Homo sapiens: one gene and its partner. The protein of the gene in region 1 binds, or shares a complex with, the protein of each later gene. Each region holds a gene or a part of one and is shown on either strand. Other genes may lie near its edges. The genes, in order: TAF1 and TAF8.

Region 1 (3,402 bases):
AGAGCACTCTGGCAGAAGTGTGAAGAAGTAATTGGAGGAGAGCAAGACTGGCGGCATGACGACTTATTTCAGTAGTGCAGGCCAGAGATAACAAAGGACTAAGCCAAGGTAGGCAGAGTAGGGATGGAAAGGAGGGGATAGAGACAAGATATATTGAAGAGAGAATCTTCAGGACTATTGACTAATTGGATACTGTAAGTGGTAGATGAAACCATGAGGCTGTCAGAGCATTTATGGTCATGTAAGATGGCAGTGTGTTGTTCAGGTGTAAGGGAGTTTCTTCCATTCAGGTTCTTGTGTATATGACGTTGGCAAGTTGATGTTTTTGAACAGGGTCATTTTTCTCTCAGGGACATGTAGAATAGTCCAGAACCAGTCACTTTAGTGTCCAGGGGAGGTGAGATGGGCTGATCCTTTGGTGGCACTGAGAATGGGAATGGTCAGGTAGAGGATGGTGTCCGAGCTTGAGAGATGACATGTTTCTCTTCTCAGTTATGGGAGCTATGAGGAGCCTGATCCCAAGTCGAACACCCAAGACACAAGCTTCAGCAGCATCGGTGGGTATGAGGTATCAGAGGAGGAAGAAGATGAGGAGGAGGAAGAGCAGCGCTCTGGGCCGAGCGTACTAAGCCAGGTCCACCTGTCAGAGGACGAGGAGGACAGTGAGGATTTCCACTCCATTGCTGGGGACAGTGACTTGGACTCTGATGAATGAGGCTTCCTTTGGGCCTCCTTGGTCAGCCTTCCCTGTTCTCCAGCCTAGGTGGTTCACCTTTCCCCAATTTGTTCATATTTGTACAGTATCTGATCCTGAAATCATGAAATTAACTAACACCTTAGCCTTTTTAAAAGTAGTAAGTAAATGATAATAAATCACCTCTCCTAATCTTCCTGGGGCAATGTCACCCTTTGATTTAAAACAAAGCAACCCCCTTTCCCCTACCACTACGGAAAAGAGCAAGCTCATTTTTCCGTGTCCTCCTTTATTTAACTCCATTTATTGCTTTTGGTATAATTTTTCCCTGGGGAAGGAGGGGAAATTATGAAAGAACTAGTAACTTTATGTCCTCTTGATGTATTAGGAAATTTCCGGCCAGGCGTGGTGGCTCACACCTGTAATCTCAGCACTCTGGGAGGCCGAGGCGGGCAGATCACCTGAGGTCAGAAGTTCGAGACCAGCTTGGCCAACATGGCGAAACCGCATCTCTACTAAAAATACAAAAATTAGCCAGGTGTGGTGGCGTATGCCTGTTAATCCTAGCTACTCGGGAGGCTGAGGCAGGAGAATTACTTGAACCCGGGAGGCAGAGGTTGCAGTGAGTGGAGGTCACGCCACTGCACTCCAGCCTGGGCGAAAGAGTGAGATTCAGTCTCAAAAAAAAAAAAATTTCCAAGCATGGTATCATCTCACTTTTCTAATTTACAGGCTGGAGCAGATGAGAGCCCTCCTGCTGGGACAGAGAATTGGGTTCTAGTGGACTCTGTGCTACACTTAAACCTGTGAGACAAACCGCCCATTATTTTATTATTTAATTATGCAATGCCTAGTTCCTAAATGGATTGGAGGCAAATTACCGTAAATTTTGAAACAGCCTATATGTCAGAAATGATAATGTTGCCACCTAAATGTTTTCTGTCCCCCCCACCCTCCCCAGGGGAAATGGTAGGAAAATGGTAAGTTTCTTAGGGCAAAGACTGTGTCTTCTGTTTCTTTTCATGCTTAGGATATGGTTCTGTGCATAGTAGGTACTCAGTAAATGTTCCTAGAATCATAAAATCCTCAACAGATATGTTACTGAGCATCTGCTTTTCATGATAAGCACTCTATCAGATCCTTGGGATGCAAAGGTAAATAAGACAAATCCCTTTTACCCAAAGAGCTCACCATCAAGTTGGGGGAGGGAAAGTGGAATTCAAAACATGTTAATAAATCATCATAGTACTGTGAGATAAGTGCAATTAAGAAGCTAGTTATAAAGTATAGGGGAAATAGAGGAGTAATCATGTCTGAAAAGTCAGGAAAGTCTTCCTAGAGGTAATTTTTAAGCTGATTGTTTTAGAATTAGTAGAAGCTTGCCAGATGGAAAAGTCCAGGCAAAGTGTAACATGAATGGGAAAGGCCACAGTCTAGAAATGGCAGAGTGTGTTCCTAGTTTGTTTGTTTGTTTGTTTGTACCTGCCTTGTTCCAGGAAGGATTTAATGTGGTTTATATTCCAGTCCTTTAATGCTGGAAGGGCTGAGATGAGACTGAAAGATGGGCAGGAAGTATATCATCACAAGCTTTGTGTTTGATGTTAATGTGTATGATTTTTATATTATGGGAAATAAGCTCTTAGAGGAGTGATATAATCAGGTTTGTGTTTTAGAAATCTGTGTAATGAATGAATGAAGAAAGAAATTGAAGAATCATGTAACATATGTGATCGCATTTTTGTAAAAGAACCATGTGTGTTTATATGTGTTTATATATATACTTGTGTATGCAAAGGTAAAAGTCTGAAAGGATATATGCTAACTGTTCACAATGATAACCCCCCAGGAATGGGATTGGAGGGGAGGGGGCTTCTGTGTTTGTTATGTATGCTGGGTGGGATATTGTGCTTTTATTTCTATATTGTTTGAATTTTTTTACAGTATGTATTATTTTTGTAATAAAAATTTTAAAAAATTCCAGCAGTAGTGTGGAGAATGGTTTGGATGGATCTAGTTCAAGTAAGAGAGAATGGAGCCCAAACTGGTGCTATGGCATTGGGATGGGGAGGAGGGGGATGGATTTGAGAGATCTTTAGGGAGTAGGACTTGGCATTTGTGGGTAGAGAAGGAGGAATGGAAGGTGGCTTCCAGAATTTTGGTTGGGGGGATTGGGTGAGTACATGGTATTCATTGGTTCATTTTAACATTTATCATGCCACCTATTTTTGTTTTGTTTTTTTAGATGGAGTCTCCCTCTGTTGCCCAGGCTAGAGTGCAGTGGTGTGATCTCGGCTCACTGCAACCTCCACCTCCCGGGTTCAAGCGATTTTCCTGCTTCAGCCTCCTGAGTAACTGGGATTACAGGCACGCATCACCACACCGGGCTGATTTTTGTAGGCTGGAGTGCAGTGGTACGATCTCAGCTCACTGCAACATCCGCCTCCCGGGTTCAAGCGATTCTTGTGCCTCAGCCTCCTCAGTAGCTGGGATTACAGGCGCCTGCCATCATGCCCAGCTAATTTTTGTATTTTTAGTAGAGACGGAGTTTCGCCATGTTGGCCAGGCTGGTTTCAAACTCCTGACCTCAGAGGATCCGCCCGCCTTGGCCTCTCAAAGTGCTGGGATTACAGGCGTGAGCCACCGCGCCCAGCCAAGACGGGGCTTTACCATGTTGGCCAGGCTGGTCTAGAACTCTTGACCTCAAGCGA
Region 2 (3,827 bases), on another chromosome or scaffold:
TTTAAAAGCCGAGCCCAGCCATGGGTTTGTACCCTCAAATACCTATGAGTTGGGCAAATTTGTCTCCTCTTGAGGTCCCAAGATAGCTTGGGGTTCCTGAGCCTGTTTGAAAGTGACATTCTTTACTTACCACAGGTCAGGAACCTTGTACAGAGACTCTGTGTGGACGGGGTATAAGGCCAGATTCCCCAACGGGCTTTAATTGGCTATATAAGTCAACTTTGATTCTTTAAAAAAAAGCATGCCATTCCAGTCAAAGCCTTGGTAAAATAACCAATTTCTCCAACTGTGGCCTGTTACAAAAGAAAACAGATTCTTATTGCACTTATGCAATTAGCTATACTGCCATAAATTGAGAATATTCACAAATAGTTTCCAAATTCTGGAGAAATCAGGTAGAGAGGAACAATATGCTGTAAATTTTGTTCACAGGAGTTTATTTTACTCACATGATAAAAGTTGCAAATAGTTCTAAAGAAATAATTTCTCTTGACTCTGAAAACAAAAGGTTTAGCAATGTTTAACACATTAGCTCTCCGTGAGAGTCCTAGAAGTTTGTTTTTTTCCTCTATTCCAATAGCACAGTTCTTAAAGTTATCTGAGACCTGCACTTAGAGTCCTATATTTGATTATAAACTGCATTTTGAAAAGGACCAAAGCAAGATAAAATGTCTGTGGATGACAAAAGTCTATAGCCACTATTAAAGCTACAATTGACTAGGAATTTTGGTTACTTCTGTGGCATACAACAATTTTACATAGCAATTATAATTATTAATGTACACTAAACTATATCAACATTATAGAAGTTTCCCATAATTTTGGACACATACTAATAATATATTTATACAAATACAGTCTAAAGTAAACCAAACACCATTCACTCTTCTATTTGAAAGTTTTTCCTCTATTCTAATGTCACAATCTCCAGAGTTATTAATCAGAAACCTGCATTTATTAGCACCTGTTAAATTTTATAGCTGATTATAAAACCATCTTTTAAAGAGGACCAAAATGAGACAAGTGTATGACAAAAACATTTTAGGGCAGCCACAGTTAAAGGCACAATTGGCAAGGAAATTTGTTACCTCTGTGGCACACAATCTGTTAACATAATCATTATAATTATTACTGATAACATACACTAAGTCATATTAGAATTATAGAAGTTTTATGTAATTTTGGAACATATACCAATAACATTTATACAAATATAGACCAAAGAAAGCCAAACACCATTTCATATTTGACAATGCCTCCTGTATGATTTTGTATCAGATAAGCCAAATCATTTTTGGGCTTTAGAGGACCTAATATCTAAAAGGTTAGAAAGAGACATAATTTTTAATTGGATTTTGGAAAGTTTGTCAAATATCAAAGGTTTAAAACACTGGATATCACAAAATAGAATCCCAGGTCACCATAAGTCATTCGTTTAGCCAAAATGATAACTCCAAAAAATTTTTTTGTAAAGAAAAACTTTTACTCTGTTAGAGGAGACTTAGCTTTCCAAACAAGACTCGATGAAGATAGCATGAGGCCAACTGAATCTGTCTCTTCTCTCCCTCTCCTCTTTTTTTTCCCTGCCATTCACCCAAAGGAGAAAAGAAAACCCTTTCATTATCTTTTAACATTACATAAAAATCATCTTCAGAAGAGAAAAACAAATTTCATATTTGTACTAGCGCATCTTTAATGTTAAAGCTAGTTTTTTAAATAAAATTTTATATCTCTACCCAGTTTTAATTAGTTTGACCATACAGTAAGATTTTCATAAACTTTTTAGAACCCTTTACAATTTTCCACCAAACAGTAGGTCAATTTTCTAAGAAAACCCTGTTATTCAGACACGTGGGTCCAGATTCTGGCCCCACATCAGTATGATTTTAATGTTTTAGCCTACAGAAAAAAGCTAAATAATTTCTTTTAAATCTTAGCCAACTTGTTGATACCCACAGAATTTTTACACGATCAACCCTTTACAAACCTTTTTTACTTAGCTTAAATCTTCAGTTTCGATTCTGTTACTCTTTTAGGTTAAGACAATCTTTTTTTTTTTTTTTTTTTTTTTTGAGACAGAGTCTTGCTCTGTTGCCAGGCTGGAGTGCAGTGGTGCGATCTCAGCTCACTGCAACCTCCACCACCTCCCGGGTTCAAGTGATTCTCCTGCCTCAGCCTCCCAAGTGGCTGGGACTACAAGCGCCTGCCACCAAGCCTGGCTAATTTTTTTTTTTTTCTTAAGTAGAGATGGGGTTTCACCATATTGACCAGGCTGGTCTCGAACTCCTGACCTTGTGATCCACCTACCTTGGCCTCCCAAAGTTTTGGGATTACAGGCATGAGCCACCGTGCCTGGCCAAGACAATCTTTAAAACCCTCTGAACTAGACAAAATTACATTCCCTTTAACAAAAGCTATGGCTAAAGCTATGCCAAGTTCACATGGCATTCTCTATCTCTGTCTTCCTGTGGCCAGCTTCTTAGGAGGACACTAGTCATATTGCACTAGGGACCCACCTTACCTTAGTAAGACCTCATCTTCACTGTGCTTACATCTGCAGTGACCCTATTTCCAAATAAGGTCATATTGTGAGGTACTAGGACATATCAAAAATGTTTTTTTGTGGGGACACAGTTCAACCCATAACATTCTTTAACTCTTTTATATAGTATATCCCTATCTGTAACATTTTTTTTTGAAACAGGGTCTCACTTTGTTGCCCAGGCTGCTGGAGTGCAATGGGCGATCTCAGCTCACCACAGCCTCGACCTTCTAGGCTCAAGTGATCCTCCCACCTCAACCTCCCGAGTAGCTGGGACTACAGGGGTGCACCACCATGCCCAGCTAATTTTTGTATCTTCTGTAGAGACAAGATATCGCCATGTTGCCCAGGCTGGTCTCAAACTCCTGGGCGCAAGCAGTTCACCCAGGCATGGGTACATACTCCAGTATATGTTTGCTTATTTATGTGAATATTATAATGTAACATTGTACAAAATAATGTACATTAAAAGATAATCTTACCCTTTTAAAATGTTCAGGAAACCTATAACCTTTTCTAGCGGGAGCAATTGCCTCTGCTTTTTATTTTTTGAAATCATAGGGTTTTTGTTTGTTTTGTTGTTCTTGTTTGTTTTGTTGTTGTTGTTATTTTATAGAGATGGGGACAGGTTTTTTGTCTTTCTGTGGTGCTCAAGCTGGTCTTGAACTCCTAGCCTTAAGTAGTCTTTGCACCTTGGCCTCCCAGAGTGCTGGGATTACAGGCATGCACCACTGTGCTCAGTCTTTTTTTAGAGGTGGAGTTCTCGCTCTGTTGCCCAGGCTGGAGTGCAGTGGTGTAATCATGGCACTACAGCTTTGAACTCCCGGGCTCAAGCAGTCCTCCCACCTCAGCCTGCAGAGTAGCTAGGACCACAAGCACACGCTACCATGCCAGCCTAGAAATCTTGGTTTAATACTTGATGGAATAGTAAGTTGGAGGTCAGAATCTAAGATTAGTTTATTTTGATACTTTAATGGCTCTCATAGTTGAAAATGGTACATCACAAACATATGTAACATCATTGGCTGCTCTTAATAAATCATAAAACTAATTTTTTTCATCCTCATTTACTCATTATCCAAAGAATTTGGTTGAAAATTTTCTATTAAATTTCTAATTTATTGAGTGCCAAAAGTTGTCTTAGGAATCATTACAAGATTTTGCATTTTAATGTTTTTAACAAGTACAATATGTTCAAAATCCACTCATTTTATTATTGGGAAGTTTTGGGGTTTTTTTGTGGGGGGTGGACAGAGTCTCGCTCAGTCCCCCAGGCTGGAGTGCA

The links.
Region 2: TAF1 (region 1) and TAF8 share a complex: the UniProt entries of both Homo sapiens proteins name them as parts of the TFIID basal transcription factor complex.

The regions. Positions count from the first base shown.
Region 1 is NC_000023.11:71,463,332-71,466,733, forward strand, and holds the end of TAF1 (transcription initiation factor TFIID subunit 1), read left to right. Parts: intron 1-492; coding exon 493-715; 3' UTR 716-2,674; downstream 2,675-3,402. UniProt on the Homo sapiens protein: The TFIID basal transcription factor complex plays a major role in the initiation of RNA polymerase II (Pol II)-dependent transcription.
Region 2 is NC_000006.12:42,060,482-42,064,308, forward strand, and holds part of TAF8 (transcription initiation factor TFIID subunit 8), read left to right. Parts: intron 1-3,827. UniProt on the Homo sapiens protein: The TFIID basal transcription factor complex plays a major role in the initiation of RNA polymerase II (Pol II)-dependent transcription.